7 linked regions of the Homo sapiens genome follow. The protein of the gene in region 7 purifies or fractionates together with the protein of the main gene of each other region. This does not show direct contact. Each region holds a gene or a part of one and is shown on either strand. Other genes may lie near its edges.

Region 1 (3,500 bases), on a different chromosome or scaffold from region 7:
CCTGTCCACGGCAGCATCAGCCACACCCCTGTCCACAGCAGTATCCACACCCCTGTCCATGGGAACATCATCCACAACCCTATCCACTGCAGCATCATCCACACCCGTGTCCATGGCAGCATCCACACCCCAGTCCATGGCAGCATCTACACCCCTATTCACGGCAGCATCATCCACATCCCTGTCCACGGCAGCATCATCCACACTCCTGTCCATGGCAGCATCCACATCCCTGTCCACGGCAACATCCACATGCCTATCCACATGCCTGTCCACGGCAACATCCACATGCCTGTCCACAGCAGCATCCACACCCCCGTCCACGGCAACAACATCCACAACAGCCAGGGGGAGAGGAGCCTGAGCCCCCAACAGAGGAGGATAAACACAGACCGTCCGTGCAGACCCCTGCCCATCATTCAGCCTTAAAAAGGAAGGCAGCTCAGACACGTGCTCCAGAAGGCACGGCACTCAAGGACGCCGTGTGGAGTGCAATGAGCCATCACAAAACACTGTCTCCACAGGGACGGCGCTCGAGGACGCCAAGTGGAGTAAAATGAGCCATCACAAAACACTGTGCAACTCCACTTACATGAGGTCCCTACAGTGGCCAAAATCCTAGAGACAGAAAGTGGAGGCCAGGTGCGGTGGCTCATGCCTATAATCCCAACACTTTGGGAGGCCAAGAAAGGCAGATCACGAGGTCAGGAGTTCAAGACCAGCCTGGCCAACATGGTGAAACCCTGACTCTACTAAAAACACAAAAATTAGCTGGGCGTGGTGGCGGGCATCTGTAATCCCAGCTGCTCAGGAGGCTAAGGCAGGAGAATGGCTTGAACCCGGGAGGTGGAGGTTGCAGTGAGCCAAGATCGTGCCACTGCACTCCAGCTTGAGCAACAGAGCAAGACTCCATCTCGGAAAAAAAAAAAAAAAAAGTGGAGTGAATGGGGAGCTGTTTAATGGGTTCAGAGTTTCCTGCAGACTTGCTGTGCAGCAGTGAAAATACACACAGCATTACAAAGCTGTACAACTGGTTAAGACGGTAAAAACATTATATAAATTTTACTGCCCCACCTCAGAAAAACCGTAAGAGATGGATACAGAAAAAAAAATTCACAATTTTTTTTTTTGAGACGGAGTCTCGCTCTGTCACCCAGGCTGGAGTGCAGTGGCACGATCTTGGCCCATTGCAACCTCTGCCTGCTGGGTTCACACCATTCTCCTGCCTCAGCCTCCCGAGTAGCTGGGACTACAGGCACGGGCCACCATGCCTGGCTAATTTTTTGTATTTTTAGCAGAGATGGGGTTTCACCGTGTTAGCCAGGATGGTCTCGATCTCTTGACCTCGTGATCCGCCCACCTCAGCCTCCCAAAGTGCTGGGATTACAGGCGTGAGCCACTGCACCTGGCTAAGTTCACAAATTTTTAAGACAGTAACAGGTAAGGTGGGCTGGTACAGGCAGCCCTGGGCACATGCAACTCTGAGGAAATTTGCCTTCTGCTGGTGCTGAGGCTGTGAAACCACATGTACTGGCACTACACACACTCACACCCCCGTCCTCCCTGCGAAAACAATCAGCTCCAAGAAACACACTTTTACTGGCCACCTCTGCTATGAAGAGGGTGGGCTGGAGGGGGCAGGAGGAAGGAGACCAGCCCTGAGATGTCCAGTCAGCAGGTGGGGCCGCTCTGGACCCCAGACGCCTGCCCAGGCTCCCTCAGGATGAGATGAGCATGAGAAAGACACAGCCTCTCAGAGCCTCTGTCTGCCCCCTGCATTTCTTCCTGCAGATGGCCTCGGCAGGGGTGCAGGCTGTGGGCACAACCCTGTTTCCCCCTGCAGCCACTTCCACCCCATCTCCTCCAGGACTGGCCCCCAGCACTGCCATGGCTGCACACCCCTCTTGGTGACTCAGAACTGAGGGAAAAAAAGCCCACAGCGGAAACACAAAGACACAGCGCAGGATCCTGCAGGCTCTGGAGTGAACACCCCCCGCCCCAACAGGTCCCCAGAGAGAACACAACCCAAAATGTAGCAAAATGCTTCCCCCAGATGGGTGGCACATGCAGAGAAAGAGACCATTCCAGGGTCTGAAAGGCCTCCCTCCGCCTTAACCCAGCCCTTGCAGCTCAGCAGCAGGGAGGGCCGTGAGCAGTCGGACAATGGTGGTTCTCAGGGTGGGCAACAGCAGGGGCGAGTGGCCCCCCGTGGGGTCTTGGGACCTGTGGGAAAGCAGGGTTGATGTCTTGGAGAGTGGAGAAGGCTCAATTTCTGGCTAGGCGGCAGTTTCTTTAGCCACCTGCTGGTCAGAGCTCATCACAGCAGGAAACTAGCAGGTGGCTGGGATTTAAAATGAAACAAGACCAAACGATTTGCCAAAGGAACTTGAACCACAGCATCAGGCTGACCCGACTGCAGTGTCAGGGGCCGTGGGATCAGGGAGTAGAGGGGCCCAGGAGACGTAAACTCAGGTCCAGCCACTGTGTGGCCCTGTGCAGGTCAGCCACTGGACACTGAGATGACCACAGCACTTTCACTCTGCAGGGCCCTGGGCAGAGAAAGTCCCTACAGGAGCTGCCCAGGCTGTGCTCAGCACACTGCCAGGCACACAGCAGCACCTCCCTATAGGAACCACCGCCAGGCCCCACCGTGCCGGAGCTCCGCAGCCTAGGAACCACCGCCGGGCCCCACCGTGCGGGAGCTCCGCAGTCTCCAGCGTATTCAGAACAGGGTGATGAGGAGAGTGAGTGACCATGTCTCCTCATCAGCAACCCGAAAAAATGAACCTAGAAAAGGGGGAGTTAATAAATGAAATACAGCCAGCACGGTGGCTCATGCCTGTAATCCCAGCACTTTGGGAGGCCGAGGCGGGTGGATCACCTGACGGTGGGAGTTCAAGACCAGCCTGACCAACATGGAGAAACACCATCTCTACTAAAAACACAAAATTAGCCAGGCGTGGTGTCCCATGCCTGTAATCCCACTGTAATCCCAGCTACTTGGGAAGCTGAGGCAGGAGAATCGCTTGAACCCAGGAGGCAGAGGTTGCAGTGAGCCAAGATTGCGCCATTGCACTCCAGCCTGGGCAACAAGGACAAAGAAAGAAAAAGAAAAGAGAGAGAGAGAGAGAGAGACAGACAGACAGACTTATGAGGGAGAGTTTGGGGGACCTAGTTTGTTTAGGATGAAAGGAGTTGCCTAATTATGGTGAGCTGAAGAATGTTCCAGGTGAAGGGAACCTGGTGTTGGAAGGTTCTGAGTTTTTACAAAAATTAGCTGGGCATGGTGGCAGGTGCCTGTAATCCCAGCTACTCAGGAGGCTGAGACAGGGAGAATTACTTGAACCCGGGAGGCGGAGGTTGCAGTGAGCTGGAGATGGTGCCACTGCACTCCAGCCTGGGCAACAGAACAAGACTCCGCCTCAATAAATAAATAAATACAAAAAAAAAACAGAAAAAAATACTATTAGCAGACATGTACAGAATAAAGCAATAACTTG
Region 2 (3,500 bases), on a different chromosome or scaffold from region 7:
TACTTAGGTTCTTTTCTAGAGGAATTAGATTTGGATGTTTAAGTGCTTCTGTTGAAAACTGCATGGGCTCAGGTGAAGAAGTGAGCTTCCATAGCATTTCAGACAGTGTTGCAGCAAAAAGGAACCACATACATTCCCACTCTACAGTTAGATTTAACTCCAAATTTACTCTGCTGATGACACTAAATCTTACCAAAAATAAGCTGGCCACACAGAGCAGGAACAGATGAGGGGATCTGCCCAAGCACAAGTGCAGTAAAATGCAAGGTCACCACAGCCTGGGCTTGTAACCCAGGTCCGCCTCTGAGTCAGTGTGTGGTCTTGGCAAAGGTAGCAGGTGGACTGGCAAAGCATTTTTATGAAGCCACAGACTCAACTTCAGCTGTGGTGTATAATGATTATAGGGGTTAGGGGCGCATTGGCACATACACTTGCTGGTTTTCCTACAGTTGTCCTCAATGTAGTCTGGGTAAGTGACACAGAGGCTAAGCAAGTAACCTGTGAATCGCATAGCAACATGATTATAATACCTGTTTTGTGTCTGATCATACCACCCCTCAGGAATGCTTTTGTAAATAAGCCATTCTCTAAAGGCACCTTATTGCTGAAAATTAAACTGCAACTCGACTTTCAGTCGGGATTGGTTTAAAATGATCTTGCTTGTTGCATTAAGTTCTCCTCCTTTCTCTGCCCTCCTCGCCAGATGCAGCTAAGCCCTTCAGCGTGGTGGTCTTCCATTGCCGGCACATGTTCCACAAGGAGTGCCTGCCCATGCCCAGCATGGTGAGTTGGCAGCTTGGCACCTATCAACTAGAGGGAAATTAACACACTTAGAGGAATGTGCTTTAAACTGTAACCCTTCATCCTTATGGCTGTATGGGTTAAAAAAAAATTACAATGTGGATTTATATCACATAACAAAAATTAATCTAGTTTTCAAATGTAAAAATATTTAGAAATGTTCTATGTACTATAGTAAACATAAAAGCATACCCATTTGAAGGAATTCATTCAGGCCCAGTTGACAGCTGTCATGCTGTAGAGATGAGCAACAACAGTAGAGAGCCATTGTGTATCTTATGTGTTTCTCAGCCTGATTTGTGTTCCATGATGCTATCATTTTTTTAGTGTCATATTCCTCCAGGTCACATTAGACGTATTCTGCTGTTGGGTGTCCTTGGAGTCACAGAGTAACAGCTGATCTAGACTAAATCCTATGTTAACCAGAAATAAACTCCAGAGAAAGGAGTGCCATCCTATTACTTCCTCTCCACCCCCTGACTAACGCTACCTTAGTGTTTCTGAATATGAGAGTAGAAAAAGAAGATCATTTTTTAAATATGTGTTTTTAAATTGCATTTTTAGAACTCTGCTGCACAGTTCTGCAACATCTGCAGTGCTAAGAACCGTGGACCAGGAAGTGCAATTTTGGAGATGAAAAAATAGCTCATTTCTCCTTGTCAGTCTCCTTGTCACCACTCTTTTTGAGACTGTTTTTGCAACAACAAAAGCATTTGTTGACACTCGTGCTGTTAAGAGATTTGTTTATGTTTATATTATACTCAAAAACAATTTCTTCATCTATTCCTGTACTAATGGTTTCTCTTTGCAGTTCACAGAGAATTTGGGGCTCTCTTCATGCCTTGAAATTTTGGGGTCCATAGTGAATATTTTGTTATTTATTTGTTTGGCTCATTCTTTATATAGTAATGGAAACATAAGTCTAGGAGTTAGAAATGAATTTTTTAGACCTTAGTAAAACCATTTAACCATAAAATGGACAACTGAGAATTCTCCCAGCTGCCTGAAAGCGTCGCCAACTGTGGTTATCCTGCAAGCTGCTACCTGCAACTTGGACGTTGTTTCCACGTGCTCTGCTGGCTACGATTCTTGCATTCTGGGTTTGGCTTTTTTCTGTGTCATCAACTATGGTTATCCTCTAAATAGGCATTTAATGAAACATTGTACAAATTGTCACTCATTTGATGACACCTGGGAATAACATTAGCAGGCTGATGTCCTGCACCATTATGTTTACTAATCACATGTTCTGTGTGCTGTGACGACTGTCAAAGAGTATCTGGCCATGGCGGACACTCAGCATTTGTTGATTGAATAAATGTTAGCTCTTCTCATTGTGAAGGACTCACTTTTACTGGGATAAACAAATGCAGTTAAGAATTCTGGCACCCTTGTAAGGAAGAAAAGAGAGTTCAACACCTTCGAGTCTGAGCGCTTGTGGCTAGAGTTTGCCAGGAGGGAGGAAACCAGTGACCCTGAAAACTGAGGGTGCCTCAGGAGCAGTGGGACCACCTGATGCTGAAGGACGGACTAATGATGTTTCCTCTTGCCTTCTCTGGTGCCTCCATTGCCCTCATGGAACAGAGCATATCATAGAGGGAGAAAAGTCAAACTTGTAATTGTGTCTTACAGTTACTGGCTTCATCTTCCTTGGGATATATGGTCATCCTCTAATGAGTGTAAAAGTGCGCAAAACACATCCTTATTGTTCCTGATCTCTTAGTCCCATAAATGGGAACAAATACAGCTTTCTGCTTCTTTCTTTTTGGGGAAAGGACAGGGTGCTAGTGAGTACTGACAGCATGCCAGCTACCGAAGTCACCCAGCCATTCCCATGAGCAGCAGTTCATTTAATTGTCACAGCGTCGCCAGGAAGAAGATCTGATAAACCTAGGTTTACAGATAAAGAAAGCAAAATGTAGAGATGTTGTTGAGGTCACAGAGGTGACTGCCTAACTTCAGAGCAGGGCTTCTGATCCCTTTAAGAAATTACAGGGCCAGCCGGGCATGGTGGCTCACGCCCGTAATCCCAGGGCTTTGGGAGGCCTTGGCAGGTGGATCACCTGAGATCGCACGTTCGAGACCAGCCTGACCAACATGGAGAAACCCCATCTCTACTAAAAACACAAATTAGCCAGGCGTGGTGGTACATGCCTGTAATCCCAGCTACTCAGGAGGCTGAGGCAGGAGAATCACTTGACCCCAGGAGACGTAGGTTGTGGTGAGCTGAGATCGCGCCATTGCACTCCAGCCTGGGCAACAAGAGCAAAACTCCGTCTCAAAAAAGAAAAGAAAAGAAAAGAAATCATAGGGCCAAGTTCAAAGGAAATGCACAGAACATATCTTCACATTAGAGTTAAGAATTCTCTAGCAAACAACAGATTTTTTTGTTGTTGTTAGTCACAAATACTTAGAACTGGAAGGCTCTTTGTTATTATTGAATGTACCCCTCAGCCTTCTCAGCATTTCCTTATCCCAAGACTAGTGTGCTTTCTGCTACACTGCTAGTTTTCAGTTTTGTTCTTACCCAATTGTTTTTTCTTTTCAACATTACCAATTTACAGATTCAGTTTATTACATTTACATTAATCCTCACTTATGATTTGAGCAAGCTCATTTCCAGAAAAGTTTACTTTAAGATCATCAATAGGATTTGCTAATTTCAGTGAAGTCATTTTGCTTCAGGGGTAAATTATCCT
Region 3 (2,530 bases), on a different chromosome or scaffold from region 7:
CATTTCAAGAGACACCACAGGCTGTTCTCCAAAGGACTCCCAGCTGAACTCAGAGCAACAAGAGAGGGGTGTGGGCAGGGTGCGAGGGGCAGTGCAAAAGGGAGCTCCTGGTCTTCACTGGGGACCTGGGGTGTGGGAAGAATTCCTAGCCACAAGTGGGAAGGCATCCAGGCAATCAGAAGAGCAAGGGCAGTGGGGTTGTGGTGAAAAACAGTGGGAAGAGCTTTCAAGGACAAGGTCCCCATGGAACAGAGGAGCAGTCTGATGAAGCCGGCGCATGCCTGAGACCACTATCATCAAGCTCTGGGGCTCATGTGCCTCTGAGGTCAGGAGACGGTTTCCCAGGCCTGGATTTGGCCCATTCTGATTAGGGTTAGGCCCTCTATACTGATCTGGCCACAGACCCACTAGCAGCCAGGGTGGGGCCCCTCCTTCAGAATCAAGCAAAAGCTGTGGCCCTCAGGGGGCTGCACCGAGCACCTAGGACATTGATCACTGCATCCAAAGGTCCAAAGTTTTATTGTTTTGAATACATTCTCCAGCGGCCCCTCTACTCCCCCCACCCTCAGTCCCCAATACAGAATAAGGCTTGACCACAGCCCCCCACCCCACCCCAGAGGCCCCAGCTGGGAGGCAGAGGGGGCTTCCAGTTTGGTTTCAGGGCACCCCCTTCCCATCCCCCCACCCGCCTGCCCATGGGCCAGTCCTAGGAGCAGCTGGGGATGAAGGGGTTGGACCGGTGCTGGGGTGGGGAGTGGGAGAGGGATAGCAGGCACTTGTAGAGATTTGTGGCCCATGGGCGGCACCCCTCACCCTCCTCCGCCCCCCACCCCCCAACACATGGAATTTTTGGTTCATTATAAAATTGTCCCTCCCTCCCCTGCTGTGACCTTGTGGGGTATGAGAAACCTAGGCACTCATGGCCCCCTGGAGGGGCAGGGCAGGCAGGGCTGGGGCTGAGGAGGGCTGGGAGTGGGGCAGAGCGGGTGGGTCAGAGGGGTACAAGAGGCAGAGAACAGGGAGGGAGACAAGGCTTTACTTCCTAAGCGATTGTAATAGAAAAGTTCCTGGGTGTTAAGGCCAAAGCCTCAATTCAAATATAAATTCCCCAGAATGGAGGTGACCCCCTTAACTTCCCCCTCCCTCCCCCTACCACCACTTTGCCCAGAGCTTAGAAACCCACAGAGACAGGGAATAGCCCCTAGCCCTGGGCACCCACCCACCCCCACCATTTTTAAAAAAAAGAAATTAAAGTTTTATACAAAATGTGGGGAGGGAAAAGGGAGGAGGCAGGGAAGAGACAAGAGAGCTGCCCTCACCTCCAGGGCATAGGGGGCTTAAGGCAGCAAAAGAAGCATGGGGGGTGCGGGGCACACAGGTCCCCTGCCCACAGCCCTCAGGAGTCTCGGTGCTCCAGGGAGAGCTGGGCCGTGGCATGCTGGAGGTCAGAGCTCACCCGCCTTGGGGTGAGGGGCCCCCCAGCCTCCCCAGGCCCCTCCCCACGCACCTTCTTGTCCTCACCCTCATCCTCAAAGCCCCCAGCGGGGCCCCCACCCCCTTCGAGGCGACAGTCTTCACTCCAGCGCCGCTTAAAGCGTAGCTTGAGGGGCATGCACTGGGATGCCCCGGGTGCCTCGCCGGGCTCAGGCTTAGGGGGTGCAGGTGGGGCACGGGGCGTCTTGAACACCTCCCCGTCTTCCTCATCCTCATCACTGATGTCAGTCACCTCTACCTCCTCCGACTCGCCTTCCGAGATGGGCTCCACCTTGATCTGTGGTGGCGGGGGCGGTGGGGCTAGCGCCCCTGCCCCCTCAGCCAGCCCGCCTGCACTGCCACCGCTCTTGTCAGCACCGGCTACGGCCTTCTCCCCAGCTGCCCGCTGCCGGCGTCCGAGTGGGGGCGGCTGGAGCTTAAACTTGAATGGGGAGGAAGAAGAAGAAGAGGATGACGAGGCCGAGGAGGGGACCGGTGGGGTCTCGGGTGCCATGGGCGGCAGCGGGCACTTGTCAGGGCGCTGGGGCTGGGGCACCACCAGCCCAGGGTAGTGCAGGAAGGCGCGGGGGCTGAGGTGGTAGTTGTAGACGCTTTGGGTGTGGGCCTGCAGGTACCGTTTCATGTCCTCAGGGCTGAAGGAGAAGTGGGAGCCTCCCCCTGAGCCGCTGGGCCCCCCGCCACCACTGGGGTACATCGGGCTCAGCGTGGGCGAGGGAGTGTAGGCCAGGTGGGTGGGCGTCATGGGCAGAGCCGGGGAGAGCTGAGGGGGCAGCAGGGATCCAGGACCGGCCAGAGGCGACACAGGGAAGGGGCTGAGGGGTTCAGGGCCACCCCGAGGCCGGGGATAGACTCGGAAGACACCAGGGTCATGGGGCAGGCGGGCCAGCGGGGGCCCTCGGAAGGCACCCAGATCCGGAGGGCCGGGTGGTCGGGCGCGGGGATCCTCTCCCAGCGGTTCCTCCAGCTCTGACGTGCCATCACTACAGTCACTGACTGAGCCTCGGCCCAGGCGGCGGGCCACCACAGCCGAGAAGAG
Region 4 (3,500 bases), on a different chromosome or scaffold from region 7:
GACTGAAAGAAACTTAAGTCTAATTTGAACTAACTTTAGCAGAATTATGGTTTCTTTCCATATGGTAACCAATGAGAAGAGGGCAATATGTTGTCACTGAGTGTAGGAAACAATCAAAGCAAAATTCCTGTTTTCTTTTACTTAGATACACAAATAGTGTTCTTGTTCCGGGGTGGGGGCAGGGTGCGGAGGGGAAGATGAATGGTTTTTTTTAAATAGTACAAGGAGCTCTACTGTGTTCAAAGACAACATATGGCAAATGAAACTGTTTGGTATTTGAAGAAGGCCAAAGAGAGTTTCCTCCTTGATGTAACCTATGTCCAGTGTTCCACCTGTATGGGAGGGGCTATATGTAAAGGGTTTCTAGTCAGTCTATTATACTGTTAAAAGATTTGGTATCAATGTCTTGTACTTTATGTTTGCCAACCCCACCCTCTTATGCACAGTGAGTCAATGTAGTAGTTCTAAGCCAGCCCTAAACTTTGGTTAAGAGTGTCAGAGCAGTTCTTAGAATCTTAATGGATAAAATATTATATAGTCCTGATAAATACAAGGATTCTGATAGCATTTTTGTCTTTAAGTGCTTTCATAGATTCTGTTACATGCTAATGTTTCTTGAGTAGTTATTATCTGCCAAATATTTAACACATATTAACTTATTTAACCTTCATGGTCAGCTTTTGGGGTAGGTACTAATTATGATGATGAGGAGACTGAGGCACAGGGTGTGGAAGCTGTTGCTCAAGGTCACCCAGCTGGTAGAAAGTGGTAAGGCCAGAAAGCAAATCCAAGTGGTCTGATTCTAGAACATACTCTTAACCACTATGCTATCCCATCTTTCCAAAGTTATGCTTTAGAGTACTTGTAATTACCATCTACGTAAAATTTAAGTCTGAGAGCCATTCTAACACAGATGCTGCTGACACTTTAGCTCTGGCCTCTCCCCTAGTTCGCACAGCCCTCACCTTCTGTTTGTTCATCAACCATTGACAAATTGCACGGCTCTAAAGATGATGGCCCCTTTCATTAGGCACAGCATTAAGCAATGACTTTGTTTAACCCAATGACAGTACTAATACTGCAGGACTCATGAGGCTATGATGCTTGGTAGAGATGCAAAAGTCTATCAGTTGGCTCTTCTTACCTGTTAGACTGTCCCAAGTCTCGAGACCAACCTAATCGGGGCCCCGCGGTTGCCCTTGTCCCTCCTCTTTTGAATTCAGGCTCAGACATGTCATCTGGGTTGAATGTAGTTGATTGACTTCTCCTAAGTCTAAAGAAGACAACACACATGGCCAGTATTAGACCTGAGGAGGCCTTAGACTTGTTAATCAGAACATTTTTAACTAGTGCACCTACTGGAACTAATCCTCTTTGTGTTGTTAACATAGACATTTAAATTTAAACTTTAACTAAGACCCAATGAGTTAATAAATCCCACATCACAATCCAAACTTCCTTCCATAAGAGGAATACAAAGGCCTTACAAAGTCCATACCCATGTCCAGCCACTTTTAAGCAACATGTAAGACAGGGCCCATTCCACTTGTTTACTGCTTTACTTACTTTCCAAAGAGTTTCATGATACCTCTGGATTTCTTTTTGGAATCTGGAGATGGAGGCGGTATCTGGAAGGGACTGTTCCTCTGTGAATCTTTTGGCCGAGAAGAAGCACCAGCCAGATCTAGGTGCTCTGCTGTCTCTTTTTCTGTTTCAGCTACTCCAAGAGCAGAATGCAGACAATGAATTTTAAAATATGGAATAAACATGATGTTAATCTTCTTGGTTCTAGAACTGTTAAGAATTCTTCTGTTGGTCTATAATCAGTGACTTACAAAGAGCACCTTGTAAATATTAGAAATGGAACACACATATACGTTCTGCTCCATAGTTTACTGTGTGTAAACTTAATAAAATTACAAGCCCTTTGGAGATTAAAAGAATGTGATAGGATTGCCACATTCTTTCCTTGAGTGATTTCAATTCATAATGGAATTATTCCCAATCTTTCCATAGCACGTGGTACTGTTGATTACCTGCTACATCCTTCAAAATCATCTCCTTTTGCTTCTTGACATGACCACTCTCCTACATCTGTCATCTGATAGTGTCTTTGCTGTAGCACCCCTGCTTTTTTTTCTTCCCCCATGCCACTTTAAGATTATATTCTAAATGCCCTCTAGAGGATCAGAATCTCTGGGCCTAATCTCTCTCTCTAGGCTCTGTATCTAAATGCCTGTGATATTCCCAATTCAGTGTGTCGGGACATCTGGGACTTCACAAACTCATCCAATTTCCCCGAGAGTCTTTTTCTCTCTTAAATGTTTTTTTTTTTTTTTTTTTTTTTTTGAGACAGAGTCTCACTCTGTTTCCCAGGCTGGAGTGCAGTGACATGATCTCGGCTTACTGCAACCTCCGCCTACTGGGTTCAAGCAATTCTCTGCCTCAGTGTCCCAGGTAGCTGGGATTACAGGCACCCGCCACCACACCTGGCTAATTTTTGTATTTTTAGTAGAGACAGGGTTTCACCATCTTGGCCAGGCTGGTCTTGAACTCCTGACCTCGTGATCCACCCACCTCGGCCTCCCAAAGTGCTGAGATTACAGGCGTGAGCCACCACGCCTGGCCTCGTCTCTTAAATGTTCTTATTTGATATTTGGTTAATATTAATTAATACTGTCCCTGTTACTCTAGCTCAGACTCTATGTCATTTTCCTTTTACTCCTTCTCCTTTGGCATTTACATCAAATCAGTTACCCAGTTCAAGCAATTCTTTATTTTTGAAATGTATTCCAATCTATTAAATCCTAGGCACTGAGAGAAGAATGAACTGGATATGCCTAATTTTTCTTTTGACATAAAGTAAGTGCCTGTTGATTTTACCTTAAAAGAATCACATCCACAGTTGCCACTCTCAGATCTCCAAGCATTAACTATTTCAGTTCTTTTAGCTGTCCCTTAGTGGACAATCCCATACTAGCAAACACAAGGGCTACTGTTGTCTTCAGTGTGAGATTTTATACTTTATAAAAGAAAGTAAAAGTTGTACTAAAATCACAAGAACAGTGTTTCAGCAAGATCTATGAGTTGCAGAAAGTTGATTTTTCTACAAAGCAGAGCTGTGATTATAGGTTATAATAAGCAGCATTTACCTCTTAGCATTAACAAAACAGTTCTTCTAAGAAAGATGCAAAAAAAAACTATTTGAAAATAGTTGTCTGAACAGATCAGTTTATTTTATGCATCCAGTGTTCATTCTAGACATTTATATCGATAGAGAGAGAAGTCCCGTTTGCTGGTCCATGTGAATAGATAGGTGGATATCTATACAAGGTAACAGCACCTTTTGGAAAAACCCAAAGGAACTTTCCCAATTCAAATCCTTCAACCACGATGGCTACAGGTGCCCCTGAAAATGCTGCCTAGCTTATCCTCATCTTAAAACTACCATATTTCTCTTTTTTATTTTGAGAACTTTTTTCCCCATTTGTCCCCTGCCT
Region 5 (3,500 bases), on a different chromosome or scaffold from region 7:
ATCTCCCAGGTTCTGACAAATAAATATCTCCTATGTTCTGACAAATATCTCCCAGGTTCTGACAAATATCTCCCAGGTTCTGTAATCTGTTTTCTTTTGTCTTGAGACTGAGTCTCACTCTGTAGCCCAGGCTGGAGTGCAGTGGCGCGATCTCGGCTCACTGCTACCTCTGCCTCCCTGGTTCAGGCAATTCTCGTCCCTCAGCCTCCGGAGTAGATGGAACTACCCACATGTGCCACCACGCTTGGATAATTTTTGTATTTTTTTAGTAGAGATGGGGTTTCACCATGTTGGTCAGGCTGGTCTCGAACTCCTGGCCCCAAGCGATCTGCCCACCTAGGCCTCCCAAAGTGTTGGGATTATAGGCATGAGCCACCATGCCCAGCAGTAATCTCTAATAGTGTATTAAAAGAGTCTTTCTTTAGCATTCTAAAAAGCAAGTGTCTTTTCATTTTTCTCTTTTCCAGAATGCTTTGAGTTATTCTGAGAGATAAATGTCATCTGGTTTAAATGTTTATTTTCTTAGTCCTGTTCTGCATGCAGCTTATGGAGCATCCAGATGAAACCTAAAGAGTGCACATTTCCCTTCTTTGCTGATATCCAAAAACCCACCCCATCCTCAAGAGGAATCCTGGGTATCCACAAGTTCAGTGCCACGAAGTGAACTTTTTAATACTGCAGGTCATAAAGTCATGGTAAGAATTCTTCATGGCATATAAGAAGTCAAGGTGAAGATAACAGAGAGACGGCTTTGGTATATAGAAAACAAATATTTTCAGAGACCCTTCATTATTATAAGAAAAAAAAGTAGTTGAAACAAACTTACTATGGAGAAACACCACAAGTAGAGAAGTAAAGGTTTCCAAATTCTAAACACATGACATTTCAGGAGCAAAAGTGGACACAACCCCTGACCTGAGATGCATTTACCTGAGCACCAGCCATTTCTTTCTCTTTCTCCTGCTTCTCTGGGATTTCCTCTTAGGAAAGATTCTCTGGACAAATCACACCTGCATCGTGAGAATATGCCTTTAAAGGTGTTAGCACAACCCCTTCACCTGCTACCACCACAACCATCAACAGAAAGACCAAGAAATACAGAAAAAGTCCACGCTTTTCTGTTCTTTATAAAAGAGATTCAGGAACAGTAAACTTCTACATGGAGATCAAAATGTGACTTTCTCTCTTCCTGCTCTCAGGTTCCCTCTCCTGCTAAACAACAGCAATTCTGCTTCAGCAATTGGAGTATAAGCTGCACTGAGCTGGCCTCTGAAACCTAGGCAAAGAAGGCCCTGTGACCTCCCTTTGGAACCAAGGCTGAGCTCAACTCGTACAAATGCATCTGAAACCCCCCATCACTGATTCTGGCCACACCTTAGAATCCCATGATGCATGTGACTTAAACAGCACTGGTGCTTCCACCCAAACCAATAGGCAGAATCTGTGAGGGCAAAGGTGAGGGCCTTTTTTTGAGTTGTCCATGTGATTTAATTAGAAGCCAGGCTGAGAACCATTTAGCTAAGCCTTGCTTCTCAAGCTTCAATGTGCATATGAATCTTTTGGTAATTTTGGCCCCACTCTAAGTCATGTGATTCTGAAGATTTCAAAGGGGTTCATGGGTTGGATTTTTTAACAGTTCTGCCATTAATGGTGATGCTGCTCCCCCAAGACTTGTGATCATTAACACTCAGCTAAAGAAAGCAGCCCCAGCACAGTCCCTTACACCCAACCCTCTGACCACAACATAAGTTCTTCTGGTGCAAATGGAGACAGCCAATCTCTATTCTGAAAGATTACATTATTTCCTGGCTCTTTAAAGTTTTCCAGGGCTGGAGAAGGAAGCAATGTCTGAGTCTGTCTGCATTTGGAAAACAATGTGTACACACGTATGAATGCAGTGTTTATTAAGCAGGCACGGGGTGCTCGGATGTATGTGACAGCACTGTGCTGGGCACCTCACGTCATGTGAGTTAATCCTCACCACACCCTGGGTGATGGAACCAAGTGTCCTGCAACTCTCAAGATATAGATGAAGGGACCAGGCTTTGTGGTTCCTCTTCTATTTTCCTATCATTAACGTTTTAAAAGTGTAGTGATAAAAGCTCCAGATAGACCAATGGAAGGGATACAGAGGGGATGAAGTGTAGTGCAAAGGCACTTTCCATTGTTGTGTTTATCTTCACTTTCTTGTGGCTTGTGAAGCAACTATTAGACCCACAGGACTGAGAAAGAGCTTGCTGGATACGATGTCTCTAACAGCGCTGGTGTTAGTAAAAAAGAAAAATTAAGGCTCCAAAATAGAGAGTCCTTTGATCCCATTTATCTGCTTTGGGGTTTCCGAAAATTCTGTGTATCAGTTCCGGAGAGGCAGCAGGAGTCAAACTCTGATTTAACTCTGTAGTTAAACTCCAAACTGATTTAACTCTGTAGCTAAACCCAAAACTCTGATTTAATTCTGTAGTTAACTCTGTCGGAGGAGAGTCCAGGGTGAAGCCAGACCTGGATGAGACTCAGAGAAGGAGAGTCTGGGCATGTCTGGGCAGGGAGAGGGCCCTACGCAGGATTCTGCTCTCTATGCTACTAGAGTATTTACAATTCTGTTTTTCCTAAAACTGCCCCCCACCCCAAAATTTAAATCCCAGGGTTTGTATAATTTTAATCTATTTTGGCCACTTCCTTGTCTATTTTATAACATAAAATAACAAGCAATTTAACCGAAACCTTTAGGATTTTCTAGGACAGATATGGTAGAAGCTAAATATTTATTTTTAGCCGGGCAAAAGCAACAGAAATAATACCACCACCACCTTGTCTGTCTGAATATCCCTTCAATATGACATCAGAACTCACAACAACCACATCAGGAAAATGGCCCAAATGAAGCAGAAGTCCCTTTGACCACTCCCTTCTTCATGCTGACCCCAAGACGCTGAATTCAATGATTTATCCAGTTACTGGAAATGGAAAAGTTTCTGGCTTGCGGGGACCATGGCTGCCTTCTCTGTTTTCCTAATGGCTACACAGGATGGAATCAATTAGTTTATCAGTTTGAATCTCCAGATCTCATTTTTGTTTTTTACTGAAGTACCAGAAAAACTGGAGTAATTCCCATGTGGATACCAATGAGGTTTCTTCTCTGAGGGGAGGAACAAACCCTGGGTGACTCATTTCTCTTATTCTACAACAGAAGCACAGATAGACCGTTTTGTCAGCCTGAGCCCCGTCTGCACAGTGCACTCCTGAATGTCCAAAAGACTCCAGGTGCTGGTGAGAGAGTTCCTGGTGACCCTGCACAGATGCCCTCTATGGCCATGAGATCCATGATAGTTGCTACCTTCTCCCTGTTGCAATCCTCCTTTAGAGTTCAATAACTTCCTATCTAAAGCTAAATTTATTTTATTTGACGAAGTCTAGAAACAGCCCCAGGATAATAACGATTCCATACCCAGGAAGTCCTCCCCAGCTTCCTTCCATCCCAACTCTAACTGCATCTGCCTGTG
Region 6 (4,022 bases), on a different chromosome or scaffold from region 7:
ACAGCGCTTTCTTACATCTCACTATGACGTTTTCACATCGCTTACAGAATACAACCGTCATTAGCGCATTTCCAGTTTGCTCTAATTTATGCCAAACATCTTTGTTTTAAGCAGCACTTCCCCATACAACGCCTTCTAGCAACTTCGTAAGTGAGCACCCTCAAGTCCCGTGAGAAGTCTGGACTCACAGGGCCAGGGAAAAGCTTCCCCACCTCAACCCAGGTCTGTAACTCCACACCCTCCACACCACCCAACGCCTCTATCTACAACTCACACACGCGCACACACACACACACAAAGCGCACACACACACAGCACACACACAAACACACGCACACACAAACGCACACACATGCATACAAACACAAACACATACACAAAGACACACGCACACGTATGCACACACAAACTGCAGAGGAAAGGCAGCACACCAAAGCACCCAGAAGACAAATGTGGTTACATCTGGAAGTCAAGCATCAACTTTTAAAAACATAAAAAGCTATTCTGAATAACTTTTAACTTCACTTCACCCCCAACTGTCTACAACTAATGAATTACAAATAGCACCTTATACAAATGACTTTTCTTACTGCTGAGAAATCCTGGAGGTCTCATCTGTCTATAAAGAGTTATGCATCCGTAACTGCCGATGTTGGCTGCTAAAGCCAGCAAATAAATGCTGTGAGAGACAGACAGGGACAAAGTGTGTTTTTAAAAATACATGACGTGTAAACCTCAGTAATCATCTCTCTTTTCGAATAAAAATTATTTTCTATAAAGCAGGTGTTCAAAACATATTATTAATCAGCAACAGTGAAATTGTTCCTCCTTGCAGCATTCCACCCATATGGACATTAAGTCACTCCTGCACAGAATCTAGAATACTGACCAGTCCGTACTCAGGTTATGGTTAACCAGAGAAAAGAATTAAAACCCGTTACATCTTGAGTCAATGAGAATTTTTACTTGCAGCCAAAGTTAGTGACTGGAATCAATATCAGACAACAGCAAGTTCGTCTACTGCTGCCTGGGAACATGACCTACTGGCCACAGTCGGGAGGGGTACTCAGACCTCACCTTCAGTGCCCAGGGGCCCATGGAAGGGGAGTGGGGCTGGGACAGGTGGGCAGGGCGTCTGTGGACCTAGGGCAGTTTCCTCAGAATCTACCTTGGCTTCTTGGGCACCAGCGGGCTGTGGGGTGCAGGGGAACAGGTGGAGTACGGGGGGGACAGCTGGGGTGCGAGGGACAGCTGGGGTGCAGGGTAAACAGGTGAGGTGTAGGGGGACAGGTGAGGTGCAGAGGACAGGTGGGGATCAGGGGGACAGGTGGGGTGCAGGACAGTTGAGGTGCAGGGGACAGGTGGGGTTCAGGGAGAGAGGTGGGGTGCGAGGACAGGTGGGGTGCGGGGGAACAGGTGGGGTACGGGGAGACAGGTGGGGTGCGGGGGGACAGGTGGGGTGCAGGTGAACAGGTGGGGTGCGGGGGACAGGTGGGGTGCGGGGGGACAGGTGGGGTGCGGGGGGACAGGTGGGGTGCGGGGGGACAGGTGGAGTGCGGGGGGACAGGTGGGGTGCGGGGGGACAGGTGGGGTGCGGGGGGACAGGTGAGGTGCAGGGGGGACAGGTGGGGTGCGGGGGGACAGGTGGAGTGCGGGGGGACAGGTGGAGTGCGGGTGAACAGGTGGGGTGTGGGGGGACAGCTGGGGTGCAGAGTAAACAGGTGGGGTGTGGGGAGGACAGGTGGGGTGCGAGGGGACAGGTGGGGTGCGGGGAACTGGTGGAGTGCAGAGTTAACATGGGGTGCTGAGGGACAGGCGGGGTACACGGGGTGCGGGGAACTGGTGGGGTGTGGGGGGACAGCTGGGGTGCAGAGTAAACAGGTGGGGTGTGGGGAAGACAGGTGGGGTGCAGGGGGAACAGGTGGGGTGCGAGGGGACAGGTGGGGTGCAGAATAAACAGGTAGGGTGCGGGGGGACAGGCGGGGTGCGGGGGAATAGGTGGGGTGTGGGGGGGACAGCTGCGGCGCGGGGGACAGCTGGGGTGCAGGGTAAACAGGTGGGGTGCGGGGGGACAGCTGGGGTGCGGGGAACTGGTGGAGTGCAGAGTGAACAGGGGGTGCTGAGGGACAGGCGGGGTACACGGGGTGCGGGGAACTGGTGGGGTAGGGGGACAGGTAGGGTGCGGGGGAAAGACGCCGGCTTTCCTTACACCGGTCCTTCTCTGCATCCTGAGGCGGACCGCATTCTTCTCCTTTACCGGAAAATCTAAGTTACTGCACGACCCCCCAGGCGAAGCCAGCTCGCCCCTCGGGCTCCTTCCGCCGATCGGAGTTCGCTCCTGCCCCTGGGGCCAGGGGTCCCTGCTGCCAGTCCCTGCTCCCCCCGCCCAGGCCCGCGCCGTTATCCTGAGGGGCCGGGGGCGCCGCGGAAGGGGGAGCTGCTCGGGGGGAGGGGGTCTCAGCCCCTTCCCTGAAACATCTGCGCAGGGGGTCGGGGGCGCAGCCACCTCCGGGTGGGACCCAGCGATTTCGGGGGAGCCGGGCAGAAGTGCAACTCTCAAAGGAAACCAGAAGCCCGCGAGGGGACCCACGGTCCGCGGGGCCCGCACTCACCTCGGCGGCCAGGACGCGACCCGCAGTCCCCTGCTGTTCCCCGCCGTCCCCCGCTGTTCCCCGCCGTCCCCCGCTGTTCCCCGCCGTCCCCCGCCGTTCCCCGCCGTCCCCCGCGTCCCCCGCGTCCCCCGCGACCCCGTCCGTCCCGGATCGCGCGCCCGCCGGCTACAGGGATGCGCCCAGCCCCTCCCGCCCGGACGGCCTGCTCCACCCACCATGCTGTCATTGGCGGGCCCAGACCGTTCCGGGCGCCCATTGGCCGCAGAGCCTGCCGGTTTCTCGGCAGCGCCCTGCCCTCGCGCCCGCGCATTCCTTCGAGGCCACGTGGCCGCCCGCGCCCCCTCCCGCTGCCCAACGCCCGGCCCAGGCTGCGCACGCGTGGGAGGGGGCGCGCGGCAGAGGCTCCCGCCCCCGGATCATCTCCTGCCCCGCGGACCCCGGGCCGCGCTCACTTCGGGAGGGGTCGCTGGGCAGACCGAGTGCCCTCCCCGCCCCCAACATCTGGATCCTCCCCGCAGAGCCTGCTCCCGGCTCAGAGCTGCGCCCCTTGGGGAGGGTGCGCCGGGCAGACCCTAACCCTCTCCCAGAGCACCGCCCTTTCTGCGGACCCCCACGGGCTGAGCTCACCTGAGGGAGGGGGCGTCGGGCAGACGCTCCCCCCCCCAGAACATCGCCCCTCCCTGCGGACACCCGGGGTGCGCCCAGCCGAGGAGGGGGCGTCGGGACCCCACCCGACCCGCCCTTGAGCCCCCGTCCCTCCGTCCGCAGCTGGCCCTGCCCACAGGGCGTTCCGGGTCTTCCGCGCCAGCTGCCCTGGACCAGCCAAGGCTTGGGCGTTTGGAAATGCGATGACTTCAGCCACGTTTCCGAGGCAGTTTTTGAAGCTTGCTTCTTGCCAGGAAGCGCTCGTTTTTCCCGGGACCTTTCCAGGGAATGGCCCCTTCTGAGTTATTGGAATTGTTTACTTTGAGCATTTATTTGTCTTATACTTTTAAAAAGGAAACAGATTATCGTTATAATTACTATTAAAGAAAAAAAAAAACGAGAAACAAAGACATTTTTAACCAAAATAACTAAAGGATGTTATCTTTTACCTGGTCAGCACATTTAACAAGTGTGTTCGCAGATGCTAGATTTATTTCTATGCCTTCTCCTACCCAAATCTCCGAATCATAGAAGTAATTTTAAGTCAGTGTTTTAGAACTGTCAGACTTCTTAGAGATTTCTAGCCCCTTTCACTTGTTTTATAGAAGAAATACAAACAGCTATTTGGGATGCTAAGTATCACGAAATTAATCTAAACATTAACTGCCCTTAAGGCTTGTGTGCTCTGGAATAAGTTATTTCCCTGAAAATTTTGGACTATGTAAAAATCATAGCCAACATAGAAAGACTACAATGGCTGGAAAA
Region 7 (3,500 bases):
TGCCCCCCTCCAACTGAGGCATCTGAGAGTTTCTTATAAACATCATGGCACTGGAGCCCTAAACTCGCCCACAGACACCTGAGAGCACAGCCGTCTTCCTCAGTCCCCCCCGGGCAGGGTGCGCTGCCGTCCTCCCAGTCCGCCCCCACCGGGCAGGGTGCGCTGCCGTCCTCCCAGTCCCCCCCCCGGGCAGGGCGCGCTGCCGTCCTCCTAGTCCGCCCCCCCGGGCAGGGTGCGCTGCCGTCCTCCCAGTCCCCCCCGGGCAGGGTCCGCTGTGGGGCGCTTCACGTCCACATGCTTCTAATACTCGGTCCCAGTGCAGATGTGCCACTTGCCCCAATAATTCCTTCTCTAGTTGTTGCTTTGTTGTTTTTGCAAACAAGATTGTATCCAGAGTCACATGCTGTGTTTGGTTATCATATCACTTCAGTCTCTTTTGTTCTAGAACATTCCTGCCCCTTTTTGTCTTGTATGACATTGACGTTCTGGAAGATAACTTCACTTTGGGTTTGCCTGATTGCGCCCCCAAGTAGGTCCAGGTTGAGTTTTGGGGCAGGAGTTCTACCCCAAGGGATGCCATGTCCTCCCCAGCTGGGTGGGGACGTTTGTGGCAGCAGCGCTGACCACGGCTGCGGGGGTGGTTTCTGAACCTCCACTGCACGAACACCACGCTGTCTGGTTAATAAGCACCGGTGGTGACCTGTGGAACCAACCGCTGCAGCGCGGTTCTGTGTTCGCCGCCCCTCGTCCGAGCGTTCCCCCCTCCCCTCCCTTTTTCCATCACGTGAGTTTTGAACGTGCAGTAATCCTTCACTGCCACTGCCGTGCATTTGATGGGGACCAGCGGGGGCCCTGAGCGCTTCCCATCTTTGGCACAAGCCCCTGTTCCTAGCTCACCCCAGACTTGCTGATCCCCCCATCCCTGCACGGGCCTTGGTCTTGGCCATTTCTCCAGGTTCCCTGAGTGGGGAATGGTGCTGAGACCCTCCTTTGAGTGATTGTTTTGGATAGTTTTTGTTTTCTTGCTGTCTGTTTAGAGTAGTGGTTCTCAAACCCTGCTTGGGCCATCCCACTGGGGAGCTGGGACACCACCTGGCACTGTGGTGGCAGTGGGGGTGACACTCAGACAAGGGCCATCGAGGGCCCCTGGACCAGAAAGCGAAGAGGGCGTTGGGGGCAGGAGGCCTGTGGGGCCATGTGTGGGGGCCGTCTGGGTGGCGGGAGCTGTTGGGGCAGGGCTGAGCGCCCTCAGCAGCCCACTGGAGAAAGCGCTGCTGGGGTCCTCGTGTGGGGCCCAGGGCCCGACGTGGAAGCAATGGAGGGCTGCAGGGGGTGGCAGTGGGGATGAATGAGTAAGGACAGAGTGCAGCCTGGGTCTCAGACAGGGGGTGGGGGACAGGCCACAGAGATTCCCTATCTCAGCAGAGAGGAGACAGGCTCAGGCTGCCACGCCTTGCCAAAACCCAGCCTGGCCAGGCCAGCCCGGCACCTTCCACCTAGATAAGTTGTGCTGCTCCAGAGAAAGAGCCTGGGGTCAGAGTGGACCTGCGATGCATGGCACAACCTGCTGGACAGTGGCGATGAGGGGTTCAGGGACCTGGGCACCCAGAAGCGGGCACCTGATATTGTACCCAGCAAAACTGCTCCTAATAATGTCATTTTTTCTCTCTCTTACAGGCCTCAGGCCCAGGCCCAAGGCCAAGTGAGAGAGCCCAGGCCACAGGACATGCTGCCATTCTGCCAAGAGAGGCTCTTCTGGGGGCCAGGCTGGGACTGGGCCCCGGAAACCAAAACTCCGTGCCTTACCCAGCCGGGGCCCTCCTGGAGCCTTCTTGGGGTGTTGTGGCTGGGAACCCGACAGGCACCAGTGCCCTGCCAGGCCTGGTGCCCTCCTGGACCGCCTGCACGTGCCAGCCTCCCACCTGCTTCCTAAAGGCAACCCTGGCCCACACCCGCATGCGCCCGGTGCAGCCTGCCAAGGGCCAGTCGGGGGGTGCTGCGTCCTGCCAGTGTCCACCACAGCTCTGCCTGCCCTTCAGCCCAGCAAGGTTTAATCAAAATGCAATGCTTTGCAAGTCTTTACTGCTTGGAGGTGGCTGAGTTGGGGGCCCTGGGCAGGGGTAAGCTGGCAGGCAGTGCCATGGCAGGCCAGGGTCCCCTCCCATGGGGTCTGGCCCCCGTTCCAGCATGTCCAGCCCCTGAAGTTGGAGTGGGGGGCGGTCTGCCTTTGCTGCCACTGCCAGGCCTCTGCCCTGCAGCTGAAACTTGGCCATCACATCAACAGAAAACCCCTCCCAGTGCCAGCTGCCCAGCGTGGGCAGGCCCTGGGGACAATACAGGTCCACCTGAGGGGCTGCAGGGTGACACCCAGCAGCCGCTGCCCCCTCACTGCCCACCCAGCGAGGGCAGCCTACCCGAGCCTGCCCCCTGCCAGGTGTGTGCCCTGAGGCTGGCGGCTGGATGCGTGGCCAATAAAAAGCAGACCTAGCCCGGTGTGCGACTGTCGTGTTCAGAGGCTGCGGGAGTGGGCGGTGGACGTGGGCTCCCACAAACATGGTGAGCGCTGGACAGGCCCCGTGTGAACACTCACTGTTGAGGGGCCCCCAGGCCCCGTGTGAACACTCACTGTTGAGGGGTCCCTGGGCCCCCAGGCACCGTGTGAGCATTCACTGTTGAGGGTCCCCCAGTCCCCCAGGCCAGGGGCTGTCCCTGGAGCCCTCAGGAGGCAGTAAGAAACATCTAGAAGAGGGCAGACCCAGTGGTGAACCGCATCCAACAGTGGTGAGATGGGTGCAGCTCTACAGGGGCGTAATTTACAAACCACCAGACTCCCTGGTTATGTGTGTGCTGCGGTGGTGTTTGCTCTCCAGCAGATCAAGTTTGTGCAATGATCCATTTTGAGAATCTCTCCGTCACCCCAAGAAGTCCTCTCGCACCCATCAGTCCGACCCCTTCCCCGTGCTCCTCCCCAGCCCTGGCAGCCACTCACCTGCACTCCAGACGCTCCAGATGTCATGCATGTCTCCTGGCTTCCTTCGGCTGTTTTCACGCGCCATCCTCACGGCAGGCTGTATCAGGACTTCATTCCATTTCATGGCTGAAGCACATTCCATTGCATGCAGGGACCACATTTTGTTTGTCTGCTCTTCTGTCCATGGACATCTGGGTTGCTTCCAGTTTGGGGCTTCTGTGAATCCTGCTGCTGTGGACATTTGCGTAGTCCTCGTGTGGATGCTGCTGTGGACGTCTGCGTCGTCCTCGTGTGGATGCTGCTGTGGACGTCTGCGTCGTCCTCGTGTGGATGCTGCTGTGGACGTCTGCGTAGTCTCGTGTGGATGCTGCTGTGGACGTCTGCGTCGTCCTCGTGTGGATGCTGCTGTGGACATCTGCGTAGTCTCGTGTGGATGCTGCTGTGAACGTCTGCGTAGTCTCGTGTGGATGCTGCTGTGGACGTCTGCGTAGTCTCGTGTGGATGCTGCTGTGCACGTCTGCGTCGTCCT

Evidence for each region.
Region 1: the proteins of INF2 (region 7) and TUBGCP6 purify together in Homo sapiens (affinity purification with mass spectrometry; one large-scale study listed by BioGRID and IntAct). This does not show direct contact.
Region 2: the proteins of INF2 (region 7) and VPS41 purify together in Homo sapiens (affinity purification with mass spectrometry; one large-scale study listed by BioGRID and IntAct). This does not show direct contact.
Region 3: the proteins of INF2 (region 7) and ERF purify together in Homo sapiens (co-immunoprecipitation; 2 studies listed by BioGRID and IntAct, with this or other methods). This does not show direct contact.
Region 4: the proteins of INF2 (region 7) and PPFIBP1 purify together in Homo sapiens (affinity purification with mass spectrometry; one large-scale study listed by BioGRID and IntAct). This does not show direct contact.
Region 5: the proteins of INF2 (region 7) and ZNF195 purify together in Homo sapiens (affinity purification with mass spectrometry; one large-scale study listed by BioGRID and IntAct). This does not show direct contact.
Region 6: the proteins of INF2 (region 7) and ARHGEF10 purify together in Homo sapiens (affinity purification with mass spectrometry; one large-scale study listed by BioGRID and IntAct). This does not show direct contact.

The regions. Positions count from the first base shown.
Region 1 is NC_000022.11:50,235,024-50,238,523, forward strand, and holds part of TUBGCP6 (gamma-tubulin complex component 6), read right to left. Parts: intron 1-3,500. UniProt on the Homo sapiens protein: Component of the gamma-tubulin ring complex (gTuRC) which mediates microtubule nucleation.
Region 2 is NC_000007.14:38,724,192-38,727,691, reverse strand, and holds part of VPS41 (vacuolar protein sorting-associated protein 41 homolog), read left to right. Parts: intron 1-703; coding exon 704-783; intron 784-1,365; coding exon 1,366-1,446; 3' UTR 1,447-3,500. UniProt on the Homo sapiens protein: Plays a role in vesicle-mediated protein trafficking to lysosomal compartments including the endocytic membrane transport and autophagic pathways. Acts as a component of the HOPS endosomal tethering complex.
Region 3 is NC_000019.10:42,247,069-42,249,598, forward strand, and holds the end of ERF (ETS domain-containing transcription factor ERF), read right to left. Parts: coding exon 1,397-2,530; 3' UTR 501-1,396; downstream 1-500. UniProt on the Homo sapiens protein: Potent transcriptional repressor that binds to the H1 element of the Ets2 promoter. May regulate other genes involved in cellular proliferation.
Region 4 is NC_000012.12:27,677,706-27,681,205, reverse strand, and holds part of PPFIBP1 (liprin-beta-1), read right to left. Parts: intron 1,718-3,500; coding exon 1,567-1,717; intron 1,274-1,566; coding exon 1,145-1,273; intron 1-1,144. UniProt on the Homo sapiens protein: May regulate the disassembly of focal adhesions. Did not bind receptor-like tyrosine phosphatases type 2A.
Region 5 is NC_000011.10:3,372,647-3,376,146, forward strand, and holds part of ZNF195 (zinc finger protein 195), read right to left. Parts: intron 1,030-3,500; exon of another isoform or gene 946-1,029; coding exon of another isoform or gene 931-945; intron 1-930. UniProt on the Homo sapiens protein: May be involved in transcriptional regulation.
Region 6 is NC_000008.11:1,822,704-1,826,725, reverse strand, and holds the start of ARHGEF10 (rho guanine nucleotide exchange factor 10), read right to left. Parts: upstream 2,801-4,022; 5' UTR 2,613-2,800; intron 680-2,612; exon of another isoform or gene 616-679; coding exon of another isoform or gene 591-615; intron 1-590. UniProt on the Homo sapiens protein: May play a role in developmental myelination of peripheral nerves.
Region 7 is NC_000014.9:104,717,118-104,720,617, forward strand, and holds part of INF2 (inverted formin-2), read left to right. Parts: intron 1-445; coding exon of another isoform or gene 446-529; intron 530-1,677; coding exon of another isoform or gene 1,678-1,706; 3' UTR 1,707-3,500.